Linked DNA regions of Homo sapiens. The protein of the gene in region 4 interacts with the protein of the main gene of each other region in a pairwise test. Each region holds a gene or a part of one and is shown on either strand. Other genes may lie near its edges. The genes, in order: ZMYND19, TSGA10IP, CEP83, LZTS1, PRPF18, PLEKHA7 and DDX6.

Region 1 (2,966 bases), on a different chromosome or scaffold from region 4:
GAAGGCATTGCCAGGTGGAGTGGTGAGCAGCGGGCGAACTTGCGGAGTTGGGAAGGGCCCATCCCAGCATCAACACTGAGCATGTATCAATGTGGGACAACGCAGGAGGAGATGCTACAGATGCTGCTCTGCCTGCCAAGCACGCCTTCCCCTTCCCCTTCCCTTTTCATGTAGAAAAGTGATTCTAAGCAAGCTAACTACAGTTCATCCCAGGGCTTCCCCAGACACCACTAGAACAGGGTGCCTGCTTCAGTCCGCAAGTGCTAGGTAGTGCCCATGCCGCCTCCCAGAGAGGAGCCGGGAGTGGGGGCGCAGAGCTGGAGGCAGCAGCATCCCTGGCTCTCCACATTTCAGTCAGGATACCAAAATGTACCCTATTTTTGTTTCAGCCAAATTGACCTTTGTTTCTGTTTCTTGCAACCCAAAGTTCCAACTAACATAATCCCCGAAAGAATAAAAACCCCATTCAACAATCGTAAGAGGCCTGGCTTCACTCACAAGCAGTATGAGGAAGGTCAAAACTCTAATATTAGAGCAAGGACCGGGCGTGGTGGTGCACACCCGTAATCCCAGCTACTCAAGAGGCTGAAGCGGGGCCAGGCGTGGTGGCTCACGCCTGTAATCCCAGCACTTTGGGAGGCTGAGGCAGGCGGATCACCTGAGGTCAGGAGTTCAAGACCAGCCTGGCCAACATGGCAAAATCCCACCTCTACTAAAAATACAAAAATTAGCCAGGCGTGGTGGTGGGCACCTGTAACCCCAGCTACTAGGAAGACTGGGGCAGAATTGCTTGAACTGGGCAGGCAGAAGCTACAGCGAGCCAAGGTCGCGCTACTCCAGCCTAGGCAACAGAGCCAGACTCCGTCTCAAAAAAAAAAAAAAAAAAAAATGCTGAGGCAAGAGGATTCCCTGAAGCCAGGAGTTCAAGAACAGCCTGGGCAACATAGTGAGACCCATCCGTAAAATTAATTAATTTAATGAAATAAACAGAGCAGGGAAAAAAAAACACCAGCCCAACAAGAACGAAAGACACTTCAGGCTCTGCCTTCGTCCTGAGAGGCCCAGTGAGGAAGGGATGGGGGGGGATTTGTAGGACTCCCTCCAGGGTGGCAGGAACAGCAGTTTGGGAGTGGCATTTTGGAGGCCTGGGGACTGTCCCCACATCACCAACCAGTGTGTCAGGTGCTCCCACTGTTTCCACCTCGGCTGCCCAGGGCTCTGGCATGACTCTGAGGTGACAACTGCAAAGATTCTACCCACAGCCACCAACCATCACCAAGCCCGAAACACTAAACCTTACCAGCGTTGCTGACAACCATCTGCTAGGGCAGTTCGCACTGCCTGCACCAGGAAAGGCTGCCCAGAGGCTTGAGGACGTGCCCAAAAGCCCCAGGGCGCCAGGGGAACATGTCAGTGAAGCGTGTGTGGCTGGGGACTCCCTGGCTCAACTGGGCTCCCAACCCCTATCCTGCTGGTCCCTTGGCTCTTCCCAAGGGCTCCATGAAGTTCACAGACTGGCTGGTTCTAGGGCCAGCAGGAACCGCCCTCCCAGGTGGGAAGCCCATGCAAAGCACTGCTTTCAGGATCACAGGCAGGTCGGGGGCCGAGGGCTGAGCCCTGAACCATTCTCCGCTTTAAACCTTTGCTTAAGGAAAACTGTTTAGCAAAAGAACACAACAAAAAGACCCATCTGTGTGCACAGAAAAGAATCCTGAGGTGAGGAGAGAAGGAAGGAATCCTGAGGTGAGCAGAGAAGGAAGGAATCCTGAGGTGAGCAGAGAAGGAAGGAATCCTGAGGTGAGCAGAGAAGGAAGGAATCCTGAGGTGAGCAGAGAAGGAAGGAATCCTGAGGTGAGGAGAGAAGGAAGGAATCCTGACGTGAGCAGAGAAGGAAGGAATCCCGAGGTGAGGAGAGAAGGAAGGAATCCCGAGGTGAGAGAAGGAAGGAATCCCGAGGTGAGAGAAGGAAGGAATCCTGAGGTGAGAGAAGGAAGGAATCCTGAGGTGAGAGAAGGAAGGAATCCTGAGGTGAGCAGAGAAGGAAGGAATCCTGAGGTGAGGAGAGAAGGCTGATGCCTCCCAGGGGTGTGGGGCAGAAGCCCTGCTCACACCGAGTCCCGACGCTGGCCCTGCCCTGGAGCAGGCAGCCCTTCTCCCCACTGTCATGCCAGCTAAAGGGAGGTTCCCAGAGCCAATTATAAGAGGAGCAATGCAAAAACACACACCATCAAGATCCTTCCCGCTCCCATGAAGAAAAGGAGGATTCCACGCTTTGGGGAAAAACAATGAAATTCCCAAAATACACAGAAGCATCAGGGCTCAGAGGAGGAACAGGAGACCCTCTTGGAAACAAGAGCTTTGGCGGTGGCCCTCCTCAAAAGGCGCCTCTGCTGGCATCGCCAGGCCCTGAGAAGACCCACCTCTGCTTGCTGGAGGTCTCTTCAGCCTTGGGCCGCCAGCCCCACGGCACCAGTTGCAGGTTGTCCAGGCGATTGTCCACGGTCACAGCGTTGAGGTGCACCACCTGGAAGCCCGGGGCCACGCCCCCCCGGTGCCGCTCCCTAGAAACAGACAGCAAACCCTGCATCTAACCCTGCATCGCTGCCTCCCACCCTCACAGACATTTCTGGTCAGGTACCAAAGTCCTTCCAGGAAGAAATGTCAGCCATGTGATCTGATCGGGCCCCTGGTCCTTTGGATGAGGGTACCTCAGGCGGAAGCTGCTGAGAGAAACCCAAGCACCTGATCTGTGGCCCAAACAGGACAGGGACACAGGGAGGACCCGGCCCCTGGACTTCAGAGCACAGACAGCCAAAGCTGGAACGCAAAACCACCTAAGCAGATGGCCTCGAGACAGCTCCCCATCTGAGTGGTCCCTACCATGCACACCGGGGGGGCTCGGCAAAACCCAGCAAGGGGAGCAACCACCGTCCCTCCAGAGGCTGCCGGTCCTGGGCAAGCTCCCA
Region 2 (3,500 bases), on a different chromosome or scaffold from region 4:
TACTCAGGAGGCTGAGGCAAGAGAATCACTTGAACCTGGGAGGGGGAGGTTGCAGTGAGCCAAGATTATGCCACTGCACTCCATCCTGGGTGACGAAGTGAGGCTCCATCTCAAAAAAAAAAAAAAGGCAAAGAGTCAGGGCATGGTGACTCACACCTGTAATCTCAACACTTTGGGAGGTGGAGGCAGCAGGATCACCTGAAGCCAGGGGTTGAGACCAGCCTGGGCCACATAGCAAGACACCTATCTCTACAAATAAAAAGTTAAAAAATAAATCAGCTGGATGTGGTGGCATGCACCTGTAATCCCAGCTACTCAGGAGGCTGAGGTGAGAGGGTCACTTGTGCCCAGGAATTCAAAGCTGCAGTGAGCTATGATCGTGGCACTGCACTCTAGCCTGGGCGACAGAGCGAGACTCCATCTCAAAATAATAATAATAATAATAATAATAATAATAATAAAATAAGCAAATAACCCAAATAGACATTTCTCAAAAAAAGACATACAAATGTCTTTTTCATCACTAATCACTAATCATCTGGGAAATGCAAAATAAAATGATAATAAGATATCACCTCACGCCTGTTAGAATGACTATTACCAAAATGATGAAAGATAAGGGTTGGTGATGATGTGGAGAAAAGGGAATCTCTGTTTACTGTTGGTGGGAATATAAATTAGTACAGTCATTATAGAAAACAATATCAAGGTTCCCCAAAAAATTACAAGTAGAACTACTATGTGATCCAGCAACCCACTTCTGGGTACATATTCAAAGGAAATGAAATTAGTATGTTGAAGAGGTAGCTGTACTCCTATGTTCATTGCAGGAATATTCACAGTAGCAAAGATATGAGATCAACCTAAGATTCCATCAACAGAAGAATGGATAAAGAAAAGGTGGTATATATACACAATGGCATTCTTCAGCCTTAAAAAGAAGAAAATCCCATCATTTGCAACAACATGCATAAACCTGGAGGACACTATGTTAAGTGAAATAAGCCAGGCACAGGAAAACAAATACCATATAATCTCCCTTATGTGCCAAATCTTAAAAAAGTCAAACTCAGCATAATGGGACCCCATCTCTACCAAAATTTTAAAAATTAGCCAGCAGCCAGGTGTGGTGGCTCACGCCTGTAATCCCAGCACCTTGGGAGGCTGAGGCGGGTGGATCACGAGGTCAGGATAGCGAGACCATCCTGGCTAACACAGTGAAACCCCATCTCTACTAAAAATACAAAAACTTAGCTGGGTGTGGTGGCGGGTGCCTGTAGTCCCAGCTACTCAGGAGGCTGAGGCAGGAGAATGGCGTGAACCCGGGAGGCGGAGCTTGCAGTGAGCTGAGATCGCGCCACTGCACTCCAGCCTGGGCAACAGTGAGACAAGACTCCATCTCAGAAAAAAAAAAAAAAATTAGCCAGGCATGGTGGCTCATGACTGCAGTCCTAGAGCTCAGGAGGCTGAAGTGGGAGGATCACTTGAGCCCTGGAAGTCAAGGATGCAGTGAGCCATGATTGTGCCACTGCACTGCAGCCTGGGCAACACAGCAAGACCCTGTCTCTAAATAAATAAATAAATAAATAAAGTCAAACTCATAGAAGCAGAGAGTAGAATGGTGGTTACCAAGTCCTCACTGGGTTTGTGGGGAGAAGAAGGGAGATGTTGGTCAAAGGATAAGAAATTTCAGTTAGAGAGGAGAAATAAGTTCAAGAGATCTATTGTATGATCTGGTGTCTGTAGTTAAAAGCAATGTATTGTATACTTAAAAATCAATAAAAGAGTAGATTTTAAGTGTTCTCACTACAAAAAAAAAAATCAAGTAAGACCGGGAGTGGTGGCTCACGCCTGTGATCCCCGCACTTTGGGAGGCTGAGGCGGGCAGATCATGAGGTCTGGAGTTCGAAACCAGCCTGGCCAATATGGTGAAACCCCATCTCTATTAAAAATACAAAAATTAGCCAGGTGTGGTGGCAGGCACCGGTAATCCCAGCCATTTGGGATGCTGAGGCATGAGAATTGCTTGAACCCTGGAGACGGAGGTTGCAGTGAACTGAGATCACACCACAGCACTCCAGCCTGGGAACAGAGCAAGACTCTGTCTCAAAAAAAAAAAAAAAAAAAAACCGAGGTAATGCATATGTTAATTAGTTTGATTTAGACCTTCAACAATATAAACATATTTCAAAACCTCATGTTGTACACCATAAATACAATTTTTATTTATCAATTACATAAAATAAATTTTAAAAAAAGAATTGTGGCTGGGCGCAGTGGCTCATGCCTATAATCCCAGCACTTTGGGAGGCCGAGGCGGGCAGATCACGAGGTCAGGAGTTCAAGACCAGCCTGGCCAACATAGTAAAACCCCGTCTGTACTAAAAATACAAAAATTAGCCAGGCGTGGTGGTGGGCTCCTGTAGTCCCAGCTACTTGGGAGGCTGAGGCAGGAGAATCACTTGAACCTGGGAGTCGGAGGTTGCAGTGAGCCAAGACTGTGCCACTGCACTCCAGCCTGGGCAACAGAGTGAGACTCCATCTCAAAAAAAAAAAAAATTGTGGGGTGCTATAAGAATGCTGAATGAACTCTCCCCTGCCCTCACATGCCTCCTGTCACCAGTCACCATGGCCTATTGAACCAGCCTCTAAGTGTCTCTTAAATGGATCCCCTCCCTCCATCCACAGGGCCTCTTGGTTCCTCACCTCAGTGTTGCCAACAGTCTCCTCACAGCCTCCAGTCTCCCCTTCAGCTCCCACTGTCTCCTTTGCTTTAGAAACAGAGGCTCGCTCTGTTGTCCAGACTAAAATTCAGTGATGTCATCATGGCTCACTGCAGCCTTGATCTCCTGGGCTCAAGAGATCCTCCTGACTCAGCCTCTGGAGTAGCTGGGGCTACAGACACTTTCCACCAAGCCAGGCTAATCTTTTTTTTTTCCTTTGTAGAGACAGGGGTCTAGCTATGTTGACCAGGCTGGGTTTTTTGTTCGTTTGTTTGTTCGTTTGAGACAGAGTCTCACTCTGTCACCCAGGCTGGAGTGCAGTGCTGCAATCTCAGCTCACTGCAACCTCCGCCTCCCAGGTTCAAGTGATTCTCATGTCTCAGCCTCCTGAGTAGCTGGGACTCCAGGCACACACCACCATACTTGGATAATTTTTTATATTTTCAGTAGAGACAGGGTTTCGCCATGTTGCCCAGGCTGGTCTCGAACTCTTGAGCTCAGACAATCCACACGCCTTGGCCTCCCAAAGTGCTAGGATTATAGGCGTGAGCCACCACGCCCGGCCCCTTAACTTCTTTTTTAGAGACAGTGTCTCACTCTGTTGCCCATGCTGAATGCAATGGTGGGATCATAGCTCACTGCAGTCTTGATCTCCTGAACTCAAGAGATCCTCCTACCTCAGCCTCCTGAGTAGCTGGGACTACAAGCACGTGTCACCATGCCCAGCTAATTCCAAGTCTTTTAATAGTTATATCCTAAGGGCCCATGAGTAGATAA
Region 3 (4,288 bases), on a different chromosome or scaffold from region 4:
GGGAATAAGATCAGGTCACGGGGGATAGAAAGATATGCAGACTAATATGGAAAGGATAAAGTACAGAGCAGGTTTAGGGGATAGTGAAGAAACCAATCTGGGCAGAGACACCTTTTCCATAAAGAACATACACTTGAAAAGGCAAGGTGAGAGGATTTCAAATAATTCACCTTAAGTCAAGAAACATGAACTTGGGTTAAAAGGAAGTTTTTTACACAGATTTACACACATTCCCTAAAAGCACATAGGTTAAACAATGTGGGCAATTTACTTATGGAACCTAATATGTATGACAAAATTAAAAGCAAGCTCATCTACTTTTAGGCAAAGAGACAGTACCTGGGGGTGGGGAAATTCTGACAATTCACTAAAATTCACTAATCTTTCTGTTAAGATTTCACTCTAAGCTTCTTGAATTAGAACATCCCATGACATAATGCTGATTTCTGATTACTAAGGATTATACGAGTCATTCTTGATTTGTCTCCTCCATCTTGCCCAACTTTTGAATATTTCATTACTTCAACATCAGCATATAGAAAAAAGGAGGAGAGAACTAAAATTAAGTCCATGGATTTTAGCAATACATAAGGGTATCTGACATAAAGAACATTAAACTTCAAGTTCCAATTCCCATTATTAATAGATTTCAAAGAAGTCATTTAGTCTCATCATGTCTCAAATTTTCTCACATACTTGCTTACTTGAAAGGTTATTGATTGAAAAGATCATTCAAAAAGTGCTCTAAAAACTAACAACTTGCCATAAAAATTTTATCATTAAGGGTTCAATAAGAGGAGACAGTGAGGTGACTGGTAAACCAAGGATTAAAAACTACCTGTGAATAGGCCAGGCACGCTGGCTCACACCTGTAATCCCAGCACTTTGGGAGGTCAAGGTGGGCAGATCGCCTGAAGTCAGGAGTTCGTGACCAGCCTGGGCAATATGGTGAAACCCCATCTCTACTAAAAATACAAAAATTAGCAGGGCATGGTGGCATGCACCTGTAACCCCAGCTACTCGGGAGGCTGAGAGGAGAGAATCACTTGAAACTGGGAGGCGGAAGTTGCAGTGAGCTGAGATCCCACCACTGCACTCCAGCCTGAGCGACAAGAATGAAACTCTGTCTCAAAAAAAGAAAAAAAAAAAAACTACCTGTGAATAATCAGTGTTTCATTCTCCCAGTGCTGCATGGAATTCTAAATTGTATTTCACTATTATTTGAGAATGTTCTAAATACAGTCCGCGCACTTCATCTGATCTGGAAAGAAAACACTCAAAGTAAGGGGAATACCCAGCATACTCTGTCCTAAATAACCAAAGGACAACTCAAAACCATTTGCAACTCTCAGGAGAGTCCTGTGTGACACTTATAATTTAAAGCATTCTGGCCTGGTGCGGTGGCTCACACCTGTAATCCCAGCACTTTGGGAGGCCGAGGTGGGCGGATCACCTGAGGTCGGGAGTTTGAGACCAGCCTGGCCAACATGGTGAAACCCCATCTCTACTAAAATAAAAAAATTAGCCGGGCATGGTGGCACGCACCTGTAATCCCAGCTACTCGGGAGGCTGAGGCAGGAGAATCGCTTGAACCCAGGAGGCGGAGGTTGCAGTGAGCCGAGATCGCGCTACTGCACTCCAGCCTGGGCGACAGAGTGAGACTCAGTCATAAATAAATAAATAAAGCATTCTAACAATTCTGAACAAACTGAGTTTGAAATCAAACCTCAATACAAAAGGTGAGTATTAATTCTAACCACTTACAGGCTAAATTCATAAATATGGAAAATTCTAAATCCAGGTAACTGTAGGATAGATACCTTTAATTGTGTTTTAGTTAAATGTCAGACTTGTTTACAGACATGTTGCTTGGTAACAGAAGCACTGCTTTAACAACCCACTCTGTTTTAGAGCTGCTTAAAGTCTGAACAGATTATGAAGTATATATCATATACACGAAATTCAGACAAGTCTTTCCTTATCCTAGAGATCTGTAAGATTTGAAAGAGCTTCCTCATTTCAGCTAACTAAAGGCTTTACAAATACTTAGCAGTGGATATTCTTAAGAGCAAAATGCCCATTGATTATGGTCAAAAGTTGGACACTGAGGATTAACCAAAGTATTTAAACCCAGCATATGCTAACATATTTTAGGTGTTTATCTCAGTAATGACAGTCGACATCACTGTTCATTCAAATTGTCTTCAAAGCCAAGGAAAATGGTAGCATAGCTTTTTCATCGTAAATTAAGCTGGAGGTACTTAAACGTCTGGCCAATTACCAAACTGGCTACACAACCACCAAGCCAGAGTGCATCCAAAAGCTCCATGAAGAGTTTCACGTGCGTCTCTCTGCCTACTTTTCTAGCACGAGCTTCCACTACTTTAACAGGAAAATAAAAAAAGGATTCAAGGGCAGTTTGTGGAGGGACAAAATGAGTATTCCAAAATACAAACAAGACACCGTCCCCAGAAAGAGAGGTTACATACCAGACGCACGCACGCTCCTTGCAACCCGCACACGGAAAACTTAAGTGACCGCAGTTCTGGCCGCGCTCGCCACCGGGGACACCTCCACAGCTCCAACCACAGGCACCCACTCAACTCCGCTTACGGAGGCATTGGGACTAAGGGTTACGGTCCTACAGCGGGGTGTCGGCCCAGCGAGAGGAAGAGGGCCGAACGGACCCCTCGGGCTCCCGTCCCTAGGGAAATGTGAAGTATCCCGGGAGAGGTCCGAGGGCGGCGGCGGCGGCGGTGAAAAGCCCCACTCCTCCGCGTGGACCGGGATCCTCAGGGGTGCGGCGCCACCCCACGTGCTGACGTATGGCCCAGAAGCCGCCTCATCGCACCGCCCCACCAGCCTGGAGGAGCGGGCTCTGTCCCTTGGCCCAGCGGCACGCGAAGCAGGAAGTCCCACCCCCCACGCCGACGTCACCCACGCCACCGACGCCGGTTGCTGCCGGAGCCGTTAGAGGGAGGAGACAAACGAACCGAGGCGGGAGCGGCCACGGGTGACAGCGGCAGCGGCGGGGCCGGGCTGCGCTCCCGAAGGCGTTCCTGGAGGGCCCTGGGATGGACTCAGAGATCCCCAGAGCCCCAGGGGACGGAAAATCTAGCCCCGGGCACTTGCCTTGGAGTCTGAGTGATGCGCGTCGTTGGAGCGCGAAGCCGGTCTCCCTAGCCTCCGCCCGACACAGCGTCTCCAGGGGTTTTCCTCCTTTTCGCGCCTCTCCTTCCCTCTTCCCCACACCATTTGAGAGCCTCAAATGGTAGTCCTGCCGCCACCTCTCTCCCTTCGCCAGCCTGCCATCGTCCCCATGGGTGCAGATATGCGCTCCCGAAGCCGCCTGCCTGCCGCGTCTGCCTCGGGCATCAGCCCACGAGTGGGGAGTCGGCTCAGCTTGCCACGAGGGAACCTCGGGTTAGGACCAATCGCCCGGGAGAGAGCCCTCCTCGCCCCCGCACCTCCTGCTCCAAGTCTCCTGTCCTGGTTATCCCAAGTTCAGGGCCCACCTGGGGTCACATGGGGAACTACTTGTCTTAAGGCTGTAAACAATAGTTGGAAGAGGAGTTGCTAGCTTTTGAGAACTTCCATGATCATCCAAAGTCTGAAACAAAGTAGGCGGTCAGCCTTTCAAAATACGTGTTGGAAGAAACAGACACCTTCCCATCCCCAGCGTTTGTTCAGTGCCTTGGTTGGGCTTTGATTCTCACTGCTTTGTGAAGTACAGCTTATTTTTACCCCCAAGATTATGATTTTCAGGCTGTAGTTATTATTGGACAACTGAGAGGTGATTTTGTTGTTGTTGAAATGAGGGAAAACGGGCCATTAGAAAGGACCGTGTCTCTTAAGAGGAGGGAAAAAAAGGACAGCGAGTTGGTAATGGAATGTTGCTGGATGGATTACATAGATGAGACATGGGAGATAGAATAGAGAATCCAGAAATTCTCATGTATGTGTGCGTGTTTAGTATAATAACAGTAGCTCACATTTGCTGAGCATTTGTGTGGCAAGTACTGGAGTACTTTTTCAGGTTATCTTATTTAACTCTAACATTTCTGTAAGGTAGGTGCAATTGTTATCTCCATTTCACAGAGTTGCCCAAAACCATTACTTTTAAACGCTGGAGCCAGACAACTCCAGAAATCTCTGTGGTAGCCAGTAAACTATACATGACAAATTATTGGTCAGTAGGAAAAAGATCATTCGGGAAATGGCGGTGGCTCACGCCTGTAATCCCAGCACGCTGGGAGGCCAAGGCAGGTGGATCACCTGAGGTCAGGAG
Region 4 (3,500 bases):
GGATGAAAACACATTTTGTCAGTGTCAAGTTTATATCAGCAGAGCCACCCTGTGCTCCTAAGTCACACCTCGCAGGAATGGGAGGCAGAAAGGTTGCATTTAGAAGGAAAGGATTAGCTCTGGAAAGTGAGTTTGGACATTGAGGCTCCCCAGATCCATAGGGATGATGGATGTTGGCAAGGACAATGGTCACAATATAAGTAACAGATACCGATAACACTGCCTAGCATTTATTGAGTGCCCACTATGTACTAAGTATTGAGTAAATGTTCCAGAGCTGTTATCTTATGGTGGTATTTCTTAAATTTCTCATAACGATCCTATGAGGTAGGCTGCTTCACTGTATTTCCTCGAGTATACAAAGCCATCAATTCAATAAAAGCTTTTCACATCAAAACATATTAAACTTACACAACGAAGTTTTGTTGTGTCATGCTTTTCCTAACAAAATATAGAACATATTCATAACATAACCTCTTTATTCTTCAGGATGATAACGCAAGTTTGAATCGAAGCCTAGATATTCAGAGTCACAGAGTCTCCATGCACAACTGCTAATTGTAAAAAATATATATATAATAAAATTAAAATTAAAAAACAGAGTCAGAAAGTTTCTGGCTCCCTTTCAGCTGTGCCCATGCAGTTCTCCATGTCCCACCTGGGATTTCTTTAGCCCCTTTAGGATGGATGGTATAATTTAGAGCTCAGCGAAGAACAGAGGCTCCTTCCACATCTCCTGTTTTATTAAACTTGTGGCTTTCCCCTTCTTAATTGGATATCTGTCTTTTGACTAAGAAATACTTCACAGTGCATGACAATCACCAACCTTTCCTAGCTTTGAAAATTGTGTGATCTAAACTTAGAGATTTGCCTGAATCTGCACATGTGCTGGCACTGACATCCCAATTTCTCCTGTCTGGTGACTGACAAGGTTGTTATTGTTTAAGCATTGATTATTAGATGCTATCCTATTACTTTAAAAAAAAAATGTGCCCAGTCCGGTGGCTCACGCCTATAATCCCGGCACTTTGGGAGGCCTAGGCAGGTGGATCACCTGAGGTCAGGAGTTCGAGACCAGCCTGGCCAACATGGGAAAACCCCATCTCTACTAAAAATACAAAGATTAGCCAGCCAGTCATGGTGGTGCTCACCTGTAATCCCAGCTATGTGGGAGACTGAGGTGGGAGAATCATTTGAACCCGCGAGGTGGAGGTTGCAGTGAGCCAAGATCATGCCACTGCACTCCAGCCTGGGCAACAGAGTGAGACTCTATCTCAAAAAAAAAAAAAAAAAAAGTTTAAGGGTGTCTTAGAATTAGTTTGTAACACTGAAGGTTAAAGATATTAAACAGTTTACCTTCCATGTCATAGCTGGCAGGTGATGTAACTAGAATGCACACCAAGTCGGCTGGGTACTTCTCAACATTAAGGCTGTAATGACTTTCTCCTTCTTTCTCTCTTGAATCTTCTCAATGAGGCCTTCCTTCCACCATTCCTCCAAAACTGCTCTTGTCAAGGTTACCAAAGATCTCCACATGGCCAAATGCATTGACTAATTCTCAATTGTTATCTTACTTTCAGCAGCACTTGACAACTTTTTTTTTTGAGACAGGAACTCAGTCTGTTGCCCAGGCTGGAGTGCAGTGGCGTGATCTCAGCTCACTGCAACCTCCGCCTCCTGGGTTCAAGCTATTCTCATGCCTCAGCTTCCTCAGTAGCTGGGACTACAGGTGCGTGCCACCATGCCCAATTTGCCTGGCTAATTTTTTATATTTTTAGTAGAGACGGGGTTCCACCATGTTAGCCAGGCTGGTTTCAAACCCTTGACCTCAAGTGATCTGCCCACCTTGGCCTCCCAAAGTGCTGGGATTACAGGCTTGAGCCATTGCGCCTGGCCATTTGACACCATTTTTAGGAAACAATTTCTTGACTTGGCTTTCTTAGGTCTTCTATATCGACATCACCCTGAAAACCTTCTCTGCTGCTCTTTTTCACTTCTCCTAACCTGCCTGACCTCCAGATGCCGAGTGCTCCATGTTAACCATCCTCAGGCCTCTCTTGTCTTTCTGCATCCGCTCTTTGGTGACCCCATCTAGTCTCATAGCCACTTCCACACTCCCAGCTCTGACAAGTGCATCTGCAGCTCCCAGCAGCTGCCCACTCACCCTCCTGCCTACTCTCCATCACTCCCTGGATGCCAAATAGGCTTTGCAAACTGAATGTCTTCAACCAAACTCCTCTCTTTGGCATTGTCCCTGACTCCTCTCTTTCGCTCACTCCCTACATCTGATCCTTTAGCAAGTCCTGTCAGCTCAACCTCAAAATTACATTGAAAACTGTTTTTTAGAGACAGGGTCTCACTGTGTTGCCCAGGCTGGTCTTGAACTCCTGGCCTCAAGTGATCCTCCTGCCTTGGCCTCCCAAAATGCTGGGATTACAGACGTGAGCCACCACCACATCTAAATCCACAACTACCACCCTAGACTATTAGCCTGTAATTGGCCACCACTTCTATCCCCCGTCTCCTCAATAAGCTTCTTCCCCACCCGGAAGCCAGAGTGACCTTCCCCAACCTAAGGCAGATCAAGGTGTCAGCTGCTTAAAGCCATCCAGGGGCTCCTTGTCTCAACCCAAGCAAAGCCAGAGCTCTTTGAGCTGCACAGCCTCCTTGTTCTCTGATGTCTGCTGGCTCCTGGTTTCTGTTTCTCCTTCCCAGCCTTGCTAATTGTTCTCCAGCCAGGCTGCTTCCCATGTGGGTCTCACACAGCCAAGCCCCCTCTGCCTCAGGGACTCAGGCTTTTATACTTGGGGTTTCTTCTGGTACCCCTCTCCCCCTAGATTTTCATATGACTTGCACCTCATTTTCTTTTCTTCTTCTTCTTTTTTTTTTTTTTTTTTTTTTTTGAGTCAGGCCCAGGCTGGAGTGCAGTGGCACAATTGTGGCTCACTGCAGCCTTGATCCCCGGGGCTCAGACGATTCTCCCACCTCACCCTCCCAAGTAGCTGGGATTACAGGTGTGCACCACTACGCCCGGCTAATTTTTGTATTTTTAGTAGAAATGGGGTTTCTCTAAGTTGCACAGGCTGGTCTCGAACTCCTGGACTCAAGCAATCTGCCCACCTCAGCCTCCCAGAGTGCTGGGATTACAGGTGTGAACCATCATGCCTGGCTGCCCCCTCATTTTCTTGAAGCCTTTTAAAATGCTACCCTAACAAAAGAAGACCTTCCTGCATAAAACAGCCACCTCCCAGAATTCTGTTCTGTCCTCTCTGCTCCAGTTTCCCCCGCAGCACTGGTACCCGCAGCACTGGTACCCGCAGCACTGGTACCACTTGCTATAGTATACATTGGTTTGCTTCTGGCCTCTCCACACCACTGTAACCCTAAGTTCCAGGAATGCAGGGACTGTGACTGTTTTAGTCACTTGCTGGGTCCCGAGTGTTTAGAGTAGAGGCTTGCATGAAGTGGGCTCCCAGTGAATGTTTGTTGAATTATCAGAC
Region 5 (3,500 bases), on a different chromosome or scaffold from region 4:
GTGGATGTTAGGAAGGGCCAGGGTGTTGAAATCTAAGTGCTTTAAAGGGAAAAGTGAATCACAAAATATTCAGCCCACCCTCAAGGTTCACAACATGAATATTTGCATAATCATGTTCTTCGTCATTGAAATGCACCAATCTACAAAAATGATCATTAAAAAAAAAACTTTAGATTCTTCAGGGTCATTTATAATTTATAATATATAAACTTTTCCTGGGTGTCTTTCATTTTTTAATTTGGTAGTTGATTGAATTATCACATAATTCCAGCCAGAAGATAAGATTGATTTTTTCAATCACAGAGCAGTTCAGACCAACAAAGGGCGTACATGAAATGGGAATTAAAATACTGACATTCGGCCGGGCGCGGTGGCTCACGCCTGTAATCCCAGCACTTTGGGAGCCTGGGGTGGGCAGATCACGAGATTGAGACCATCCTGGCTAACACGGTGAAACCCCATCTCTACTGAAAATACAAAAAAAAAAAATATATATATATATATATATTAGCTGGGCATGGTGGCAGGTGCCTGTAGTCCCAGCTACTCAGGAGGCTGAGGCAGGAGAATGGCGTGAACCCGGGAGGCGGGGCTTGCAGTGAGCTGATATTGTGCCACTGCACTGCAGCCTGGGCGACAGAGCGAGACTCCATCTCAAAAAAAAAAAAAAAAAATACTGACATTCATAGTTTATATTAGCAGTAATGTTAGGCATCATGCAATATGTGTTTTCTAACTTGTACAACAAGTTGCCATTGTTCCCATTTACAGATGAGGAAACTGGAAGCTAAGAGAAGTTACATGACTATAGGATTATGCAGCTAGCAAGAGATAGAGCCTGGATTTGAACCCTGGTCTGTTCCTACTTCAGAGCCTGATCTGTTAACCTGTACAGATAGAATGGATATTTATTCACCTTACAAACATAGAACTAGTTTTGATAGGGCTAATGTAACAAAGCACTGGAAAATTATTAGACTAACATGATTTATATTTTTCAAAGTGCTATATGCTATCTGATTTGAGCTTTACAACGGTTAATTAGTGCACAAGGCAATGCTGTTTTCATGGATGATGAAATTGAGGCTTAGAGGGTTACACGATGTTCTCATATTCCTGTGGCCAGCCGGGATAGATCTCAAGTCTTAGACCAACTTGAGGGTGAGTGCTCTTGCATGATGTAAGGGAACATACACAACTAGGCGTCTTTTCTGTTGTATCCATGGGAAGACAGTCTTTAGATCTGCAGCTCTATCATTTCATGCAGAATAGTTGCTTTATATTTTTCATCTTTCTGCATCACAGTGTCTGTCAGTAACTTACAGACTTTTTCACTGCCCCGTTCATAGCAATACATTTTTATATATTGATCTGATATGTATGTGAAAAAAGTTTTATGAAATAATTCTTACAACCACAAATGATTTTATCATGTTTTATTCAGTCCTCCTTTTTTGTTATCAGTTATTTAATTAGGTTCTTCTTAAGAAATGTAGAACACCAATTTGTGAGGATAAATTCCATGAGTCGGGGCAAACACAGATCGCAGGTAGTCCTGGAGCTTAGGAATAGCTTTGATTTTTGGTAAAATTTGTGACTCCACAGCTTTCTGATCAATCTTGTGCTGCTCTGTAATCTTGTATTTATCTTTTTCTGTGCTGAAGATCTCAGCTTCCTGGTGTCTGGGCTTCTGCAGCTGCTGCTGCTTGAATAAGCATCAGTGGGATGTTTTGGGATTTTTACATCGCTGATAACAATTTTGGTTGAGGTGGCAATGACAGATTTCTGGTGTTTTCTTCATAGAGGAACTCGATTGAGGACCAGAGGTCCAGTCACAAGTAACAAGCCACTAGCCAGGTGCTTCAGGAAGACCGCCCTCTTGCCTCTGTGGAATCCAGTGAGGATGATCAGAACGTTCCCCGGGGTAATGCTGGTTCGCAGTTTTCTCACGTGTCAACTGAGGGTTTTTTTTTTTTTTTGCCATGGCTCAACAGCTTTTGAGGCACATCTTCAGTAGGAAAATATCTAGGCATTTTATGAAGTTTAACCACCTGGGTACTACCATTCTTGTCACCACCAACTGGTTTTGTAACAGTTGCAAGAACCTTCTTTTTCTTTTCAACCTCGTACTTAGCGGCTGAGTACTTCCTCTTATACACAGCTTTTCTGGAATACATAGCACATCGGGAATACCTGCCAATTCCTCTGACAAGGACAGGGTTGTGCTGCAATGGGGCTTCCCCTTCTTGGGCTTCTTAGCCTTGAGGTGACCCTTTTTCACCTTGTCACCAGCCTCAGCCTTCTTGGCTTTGGGTTTCTTCTCTTTAGTATCCGGCTTCTCAACTTTTTCACCCACCATCTTACAAGATGGGGAAGAGCAAGTCCCTTTGTTTTAATTTTTTAGAAAACACGGGTCAGGGATCAGTAGATTGTTGTCATTACCGCATCTGTAGCTGGAAAACAGTTGTCTGTGTGGTGTTGCTCTTGCAGAAAGAAGAGCCACCTCATCTTTGGTCATTTCAAGTGGTGTCCCAGCTTTTTGTGGTTAATCTGTGATAGTTGAAATAATCAGTACTTAGCTTGTGAGTGCCTCTTTCTCAAATTGCAGAGAAGTGACTAAGATATCCTCTTACCACCTGTCCTAAAGTGCCCTGCCTGGTGTAACCACCCTGAGGTAAATGTGTCTGCATTGCTAGAACACCAGTGTTTTGGAGCCTAGAATTGGTGAGTTTTCATTTAATGCAAAACCTCGTGTGGAAAACCAGGCTGCTCTAGAAACTCAATGGGGAGTAATTAGTAGTTTTACTAGTTGTAGTTATGAGGATGAGCTATGTGCAGAATTTTAGCTTTTTTTCCTTCCAGTATTTACTGCATCTTTCCTATATGCAAGATACTATGCTGTGCTGCAGTAACAATGCTACAATAATCAAAACAGCATAGCGCTGGCATAAAGAGCAACAGCTAACACCACTAGAGTATAACAGAGCACCCAGAACGGAGCCACCCTTACACAATTATTGATTTTTGACAAATACACTAAAACCAAATGGAAGGAAAGATATTTTCAGTAAATGATGCTGAACAACTGGATATCCATACGGAAATAATAAGCAACAACCCCTACCCCACATTATACAAAACATTCTGAAATGAAGGACCAATGGAAGGAATGGCAGGAACCAACATGGGAGACATTGGAAAATAAAATTAGTAAGGAAAACTGTATACTAGTTCTAATACATTGGAAAATCTAAGTGAAGTAAATGGCTAAAAAGTACAAAAAAATACAAGAAATAGAAAATCTAAGCAAACCAGTAAGTGAGGAAGACATAAGAAGAATCTGTCAGCTAAGAGGAGAAAGTTACTGAAGGAAGGAAGGAATGAGCAGTTAAATCGAAGACTGGATGAGATCAGTCAGAGAAGTCTCTTTGGATTTGTATCTTAGACATTATTTATGACCCCAAGGAGGTTTTTTCAGTGAAACAGAATGGATGTCCACA
Region 6 (3,618 bases), on a different chromosome or scaffold from region 4:
CAGCTCAGAAATATACACACCCCTCAATGGAACTGGCTTCTTGCCTTCTGTTGTGAGCATACATCACAAGTCAAAATGAATTAAATACAAATCCAGTTTGCAATGGTCCGTCACTAAGCTGCCTCCCAGGAGCGAGCCGGCAGCATGTGGGTTGGAAGGGGGCCCACAGCGTTCCCTGCGCTGTCTTGAATTGGACTGCAGTCTGTCTGACAAACCAGCCCCACAAGGGAGTCCACAGCCTGGTGGCTCTTTGACTGGGATGGGGTAGGGGGTTGCCTTGAGCAACTGTGGAAGCCTAGCCAGGGGCCCAGAAGCACAGGCCTCCTCAATCCAGGCCTCTACAGTCAATCAAATGTCAAGGAATCGTCACCAGAAGAAACTTTTCATAGGTAAATAGAAGCAGGGCCGAGAGCTGACAGTGGGGATTTTCCAAAGAAATGGAAACAAACGTACACAGGCCACTCACCAGAGACTATAGCCAGCAAGAAACAGGAAACGTATCAGGTTAATATTTTAATCTGTACATCACATTTTTTTTGCAAACCATTACATTTTTAAATTAACTTTTTCTTGCAAAATATTCATTTCATTTTTTCCAAGAAAATCTTATAAAGGCAAAAATAAAATTTTATTTTGGCAAATGTCATGAAGTCGATACTGGCAGCATATGGAGTTAGTTAAAAATAGACAACAACTGCTAGATATATTCAAAATTCTATTTTTTTTTCTGAGCATAGTCAAAGAGAAATTTTCATTTAAAGTGTGGCTCCACCCAATGGAGGTTTTCGTTGTTGTTGTTTTTTCCATTTAAACGTCATTGTTTATATGCAGAATAATATAAGAAAACAACTTAAATAAAGGGCCACAAACACTGCACCTGGCTTGGTAGCCCCCCTCCTCATGTGGGGCTGGAAGTCAAATCAAAGTCCTGCCATTATGGCCCTGCTGGCGGCAGGCCATGAGGGATGGTGGGGGCACACTGCTGCCCTCCTGCCACCAGACCTGAGTCCCAGGGAAGCCAATCCGGGGTTCTCCAAGGGCAGGCAGCAAAGGTTCCCATCATGGCCTGGTTAGAGGGAAGGGATTTCTAGGTAGATGTCACCCAGTGTGGAGTTTATTGCTACGATACAATGAAAGTTGCTTCCTCTCACCTTTTCTGTATTTCAATGTGTACTGTTAAAAATGAAAGCAGGCTGGGCGTGGTGGCTCACGGCTGTAATCCCAACACTTTGGGATGCTGAAGCGGATGAATCACCTGAGGTCAGGAGTTCGAGACCAACCTCACCAACATGAAGAAACCCCCGTCTCTACTAAAAATACAAAATTAGCCGGGCGTGGTGGCACATGCCTGTAATCCTAGCTACTTGGGAGGCTGAGGCAGGAGAATCACTTGAACCCAGGAGGCAGAGGTTGCAGTGAACCGAGATCGTGCCATTGCACTCCAGCCTGGGCAACAAGAGTGAAACTCCATCTCAAAAAAAAAAAAAGATAGCAAACTGCTTTTTTCTTTCTGACAAGAGCCTTTTGCTGGAGGAAGCCTGGGGGCAGGTTGTGGGCCCCAGTCCTCTTGAACACACTGTTGCCCCTAAGCCAAACCCAAGGGGCAAGGCACAGACTTGGGCTCCACGTGTGATCCTCGTGGAGTTTCACACAGAGCTGGTCATCAGGTCAGGGACAGCTGATCTCTGCAGCCAAGGGCCCCTCTTCTCCCAGACAGCACGCCAACCAGCCTCTTGCTGGAGTCTACTGGGAACACCTCTTTAAATCTCACTTTCTCCTGAGGTCATTGGAAGTTGGACTAGCCTCGGCTTGCCCCGCCCTTCCTGCCCCCACAACACCTGTCACCCAGAAGTACCTGAATCTGTACGTGCAGCTGCAAAGTCCTGCATCCTCAACCTTCCTGCCACTCAGCCCTTGAGGGGAACATTAGAAAATAGATTCCGATTCTAAAATACAGTGTATTTTACAGTGTATATCAAAAGTGCCTTTGCCATTCATATGTAGAGAGGAGTCTGAGCTAAACTAGTGGGTGCATATTAGGGCCTGGCCTGTGGTGAACACCCGCAGTCGGTAAGCTGCTCCTTCCTCCGGCCGGATTCCCTGCTCAGCTGGAAGGGGTTTCCTTGGGGGCAGAAAGGTCATCTCCTTGGAGGAAGCTGGTTCCACTGGGCCCCTGGCTCCAGGCTTCTTTGCATGCTGGGTCACGGGTCAGTCACTGCCTGGGCTGGCAAAAAGCACAGGAGACAGTGAGAGGCTGGCATCCAGGGAGCAGGCACGTCTGCACACACATGATGGAATGGCAGATAGGCGGACAGGCAGAGCAGCAGAGCAGGGGGCTCTGGCAATGCGGCCGCTGCTGGGGGACCCTCAGCTTCCAGGACACATGGGGCTCTTGCCCCACCCTCCCTGCACCCCTATTCCACTGCTAGACACATGCTGGCCCCTAAATTGGGTCCCCATCCCGACAGGGCAAAGACTCTAATAAAGGTGCAGTCTGGCCCTGCCCTTCATTCTTTCAATGTGGGTAGCGCTCTTGGCCTCTGTGGGCCTTGTTTTTCTAACCTAAAAAACATGGTGGTCATACCCACTTCTTAACAAGGATGCTTTGAGAGTAAGAAGAAATGCAGTACTCCAAAGAGTATAATAGGCCAATCTTACAGCCATGGGGGCACCAAAACCCAGGAGGAACAGAACCTCTCTCCTGCCTCTCTGTGACTGAGCGCTGTTACTGTGCTCAGATCTCTAGGAGAAAGCCACACCCTCAAATGTGGCCTTCACAATGGGCGTGGCTAGAGCACTTCCCTATGGCTCCTCAACCACGGGGCCTCTACTCCACACCTCCTCAGAGCCTGGCCCAAGGAGGCTGACCTCTTCCTCTCATGCTCAGGCTGGCGGGGACCTGCTGACTCTGCTGTGAGGCACGGGGAGCACCCAGGATAGACACCTGCCAAAAAATCATGCTTCGCTCCCTGCAGCACAAATACTCTCTCCCTCCTTTCACTTCTTTCTCCAAACACCTAGAGCTGCTCGGGGCGGCCCAGATGAACCCATGAGTGGTGATGGGGAACAAAGGCTCTGAACTCACATCAAAGGGGTTCAAACCCCAGCACTTAACAAGCTGCGATTCCTTGCGCATATCCCTCAAGGCCTCTGAGCTTTTGTTTTTTCATCTCTAAAACGGGGAGGGGGGGGGGAATATCTTCATAGGGTTGTTGTGTGGATCGAAAGAGATACTTAGCACAATGCCTGGCACACAGCAGGCACTCAACAATGTTAACCACAAGTATACGTAAAGGAAGGAGAGGGGAAAGCCCTGCAAAATGATAGTGGGATGGGATGTCAGGGTAAGGACTGCCCAGACTGGTAGTCTGACCTTCCCCTGTCCAGGTGAACCGCTGGGCTCAAAAGCAACAGGCCCAGGCCAAGAACTCACTTGAGACTGGACCAGATGCCAGCCTCCTGTTTCAGGGCTCCCTCCTCATCCCACACTGCCTCTCATCACTAGATGCCCACATGGGGAGAACTTGGTAGGGTTGGTGCCAGAGCTTTCTGCCTGGCTGAGGGCCAATTTCACATTGCCCTGGGCTTCCCTTTCTCTCCCTCTTAAAGTGCCCAGTG
Region 7 (3,500 bases), on a different chromosome or scaffold from region 4:
AGTTAATTTTTGTATTTTAGTGGAACGGAGTTTCACCGTGTTGGTCAGGTGGTCTTGAACTCCTGACCTCAGGTGATCCACCAGTCTTGGCCTCCCAAAGTGTTGGGATTACAGGCGTGAGCTACCGTGCCCCTCCTACCAGTTCTTTTTTTTTTTTTTAAACTATTAATTAGCTTTACTACTCTGGATTTCTTGGAAAGTTTTCTTAAAATTACTAGTGTGTTTAGTCTTCCGCGGATTTTTTTTTAAACAGGAATTTTCCTGTTTTTTTAAATTTAAAATTAGAATAGTTATTAGCTAAGTTTGTTATAAATGAATAAAATTATTAGAGTCATCTTGGTTTTGTCAATTTCAAAATAAAAATTCATTTATACAAAATTTGTGTATATCATCCGTCCTTGGGATCATTACTTGCTGGATGCATTATGGCAGAAATACACTATTCTCTTGACTGCTTCATTTATTGTTTTAAAGGACAAAAAGGAAAAAAGAAAATACATTTTTCTTCTTAAAGTTTTTTGTTGTTTTTTGAGACAAGGTCTCTGTCACCTGGCTCACTGCAGCCTCCGTCTGCCAGGTTCAAGCGATTCTCGTGCTTCAGCCTCCCAAGTAGCTGGGACTCCATTACAGGTGTGCACCACCATGCCCGGCTAAATTTTGTTTTTTGTTTTTTTTTTCTTGTTTGTTTTTGTTTTTGAGACGGAGTCTGGCTCTGTCGCTGAGGCTGGAGTGCAGTGGCACAATCTTGGCTCACTGCAACCTCCGCCTCCTGGGTTCAAGCAGTTCTCTGCCTCAGCCTCCCAAGTAGCTGGAATTACAGGCGCTCGCCACCACGCCTGGCTAATTTTTGTATTTTTAGTAGAGACAGGGTTTCACCATCTTGGCCAGGCTGATCCTGAACTCCTGACCTCATGATCCACCTTCCTCGGCCTCCTAAAGTGCTGGGATTACAGGCATGAGCCACTGCACCCGGCCTAAATTTTGTATTTTTAGTAGAGATGGGGTTTCGCTATGTTGTCCAGGCTGGTCTCTAACTCCTGACCTCAAGAGATCGCCCGCATTGGCCTCTCAAAGTGCTGCGATTACAGGCCTGAGCCACCAGCACCCAGCCCATAAAGTTTAATAGTTGAAATTTGTAAGGGCACAAAGGTGTTTTTTTCTGGAAGTGTGAAGTTCAAGTCAAAAGCTCACTTAAATCTATAAGGACTCTCGGTTGCTATTACAAGTAGAAGAAAATTAATGAATTGTCTTGTTTAAATTGTGTGATACTTCAGTGAGTTGTAATGCAATTAAGTATAATGAATCACTGACTTTTAGAGATGTCAGAGACTTAGAGAATTCATGGGGAGGAAACTGAAGAGAAGAGATTATCATTGACGAGTAGTGCTAATTTACTAGTCTCTTTCTACTTAATCTCTGGATTGCTTTGAATTAACAATTTTAAATGTTTGATATTGGCCTCATTGTGTTTTTGAGATAGTTCAAAGTTGTGTCTATCCTAGCTTGGCTCGTGATTTGGTCTAAGTGTAGCTGTATTATTAATTCTTTAATATAAAAGATGAGAATTCTTTTAAAGGGGTTCTTTTAAAAGGGAAACAAAGTTTTTCTGTTGTGTTTGCTAATTTAATTTTGTTTGTTTGTTTCAGATTGACGTGAGTGAATTCAGATATAACTCAAGCTTGTTAGAGGGCTTTTTAAAAATAAAAAGTTGATTCCGTGCAAGAGAGCAAGTTACTGCTGCTTACCGTTCAGAGACTTACAGGTGCTTGCCTGCATTGCAATAAAGGACTCATTTATTGAGCAAGACTTATATTTATCTCTTCATTTTGGAGAGCCTAATAAACTGTTATTACAGTTTCTCTACTGACTTTCAAAAGTTTTGAAGTTTGAAAGACCTTTGCAATTAAAACAGCATGAGCACGGCCAGAACAGAGAACCCTGTTATAATGGGTCTGTCCAGTCAAAATGGTCAGCTGAGAGGCCCTGTGAAACCCACTGGTGGCCCTGGAGGAGGGGGCACACAGACACAGCAACAGATGAACCAGCTGAAAAACACCAACACAATCAATAATGGCACTCAGCAGCAAGCACAGAGTATGACCACCACTATTAAGTAAGTGTTAGAGTAAATTATTAATAAACACTTGTGGGGAACCAAGATTTGTGTTACTTTGGTGTTGACTATTAATACTTATGCCTTAATTTAACCATTTTGATTCCAAATAGAGGACAGATGACTTTGTTTTATGGCCAGTAGGTATTTGCAATAGAATAATATATTTCTGCCATAATTTGTTCAGCAAGTAGTCATCCTGAGGTCAGATGATACACACAAATTTTGTATAAATGGTTTTTGGAAACATTTCTGGCTTTCATAATTAGTGTAAAAGTTATTAGCTTAGTTTGTTGTAAATGAATAAAATTATTAGTCATCTCGTTTTTGTCAGTATAGTTTTTTTACGACTGCACCTTACCCTAGTTAAACAGCAGATAAAGCCAACTTTATGTATTAAATTTAAAGACTCAGTCTGAGTCTTTAGAGTCTTTAAAGACTTGCCCAGCCTTCTGAACTCCAAGCATTATTCACTCAGAAAATTTTCTCGTAACTTTTTTTAGCTTATGGAACTTAGCTTTTTTACTTTAAAAAAAAAAAAAAGTTGGCTGGTTGAGGTGACTCATGCCTGTAATCCCTGTACTTTGGGGAGGCCAATGTGGGAGGATCACTTGAGTCCAGGAGTTTGAGACCAGCCTAGGCAACATAATGAGACTCTGTCTCTACCCAAAAAAAAAATTTTTAATTTTTTTCCTCCTTTTACATATAAAAAGGGAACTAAGAATTTTGAACTCACAGAACACAGTTCTGAACAGTCTCAGAAACCTTTTGTTAACCTTAAAATTGAAGAGCCTCCTCTTACTAGAGGATATTTTTTCTTTTAAAGCTGAAAGTATGTAGGCTATTTGTTACTTTTAAGTGCATAGTTTAAATTACAATATTTGAATGGTAACCATCACTTTAAAGATTCAGTTATAGGAAATTAACATTTAAGATTCTTGACTCCAGTTGATGTTTGGCTTTTGTTAAGAACTTGCCATATAGGTCCGGGTGCAGTGGCACACGCCTGTAGTCCAAGCACATTGGGAGGCCAAGGTGGGCGGATCACCTGAGGTCGGGAGTTCGAGACCAGCCTGACAAACATGGAGAAACCTTGTCTCTACTAAAAATAAACCCCGTCTCTACTAAAAGTACAAAATTAGCTGGGCGTGGTGGCACATGCCCATAATGCTACTTGGGAGGCTGAGGCAGGAGAATCACTTAAACCCGGGAGGCGGAGTTGCAGTGAGCCGAGATTGCACCATTGCACTCCAGCTTGGGCAACAAGAGCGAAACTCCATCTCAAAAAAAAAAAAGGCCAGGTGCGGTAGCTCACGCCTTTAATCCCAGCACTTTGGGAGGCTGAGGCAGGTAGATCACGAGGTCAAAAGTTTGAGGCCAGCCTGAC

The links.
Region 1: the proteins of LZTS1 (region 4) and ZMYND19 interact in binary tests that used the Homo sapiens proteins (3 or more experiments, as listed by UniProt).
Region 2: the proteins of LZTS1 (region 4) and TSGA10IP interact in binary tests that used the Homo sapiens proteins (3 or more experiments, as listed by UniProt).
Region 3: the proteins of LZTS1 (region 4) and CEP83 interact in binary tests that used the Homo sapiens proteins (3 or more experiments, as listed by UniProt).
Region 5: the proteins of LZTS1 (region 4) and PRPF18 interact in binary tests that used the Homo sapiens proteins (3 or more experiments, as listed by UniProt).
Region 6: the proteins of LZTS1 (region 4) and PLEKHA7 interact in binary tests that used the Homo sapiens proteins (3 or more experiments, as listed by UniProt).
Region 7: the proteins of LZTS1 (region 4) and DDX6 interact in binary tests that used the Homo sapiens proteins (3 or more experiments, as listed by UniProt).

What each region holds. Positions count from the first base shown.
Region 1 is NC_000009.12:137,584,547-137,587,512, forward strand, and holds part of ZMYND19 (zinc finger MYND domain-containing protein 19), read right to left. Parts: intron 2,562-2,966; coding exon 2,421-2,561; intron 1-2,420. UniProt on the Homo sapiens protein: May be involved as a regulatory molecule in GPR24/MCH-R1 signaling.
Region 2 is NC_000011.10:65,948,480-65,951,979, reverse strand, and holds part of TSGA10IP (testis-specific protein 10-interacting protein), read right to left. Parts: intron 1-3,500.
Region 3 is NC_000012.12:94,457,068-94,461,355, forward strand, and holds the start of CEP83 (centrosomal protein of 83 kDa), read right to left. Parts: upstream 2,801-4,288; 5' UTR 2,490-2,800; intron 1-2,489. UniProt on the Homo sapiens protein: Component of the distal appendage region of the centriole involved in the initiation of primary cilium assembly.
Region 4 is NC_000008.11:20,255,464-20,258,963, reverse strand, and holds part of LZTS1 (leucine zipper putative tumor suppressor 1), read left to right. Parts: intron 1-3,500. UniProt on the Homo sapiens protein: Involved in the regulation of cell growth. May stabilize the active CDC2-cyclin B1 complex and thereby contribute to the regulation of the cell cycle and the prevention of uncontrolled cell proliferation. May act as a tumor suppressor.
Region 5 is NC_000010.11:13,589,965-13,593,464, forward strand, and holds part of PRPF18 (pre-mRNA-splicing factor 18), read left to right. Parts: intron 1-1,803; exon of another isoform or gene 1,804-1,903; coding exon of another isoform or gene 1,904-1,924; intron 1,925-3,500.
Region 6 is NC_000011.10:16,776,797-16,780,414, forward strand, and holds the end of PLEKHA7 (pleckstrin homology domain-containing family A member 7), read right to left. Parts: intron 2,225-3,618; coding exon 2,202-2,224; 3' UTR 501-2,201; downstream 1-500. UniProt on the Homo sapiens protein: Required for zonula adherens biogenesis and maintenance. Acts via its interaction with CAMSAP3, which anchors microtubules at their minus-ends to zonula adherens, leading to the recruitment of KIFC3 kinesin to the junctional site.
Region 7 is NC_000011.10:118,784,665-118,788,164, reverse strand, and holds part of DDX6 (probable ATP-dependent RNA helicase DDX6), read left to right. Parts: intron 1-1,646; 5' UTR 1,647-1,913; coding exon 1,914-2,113; intron 2,114-3,500.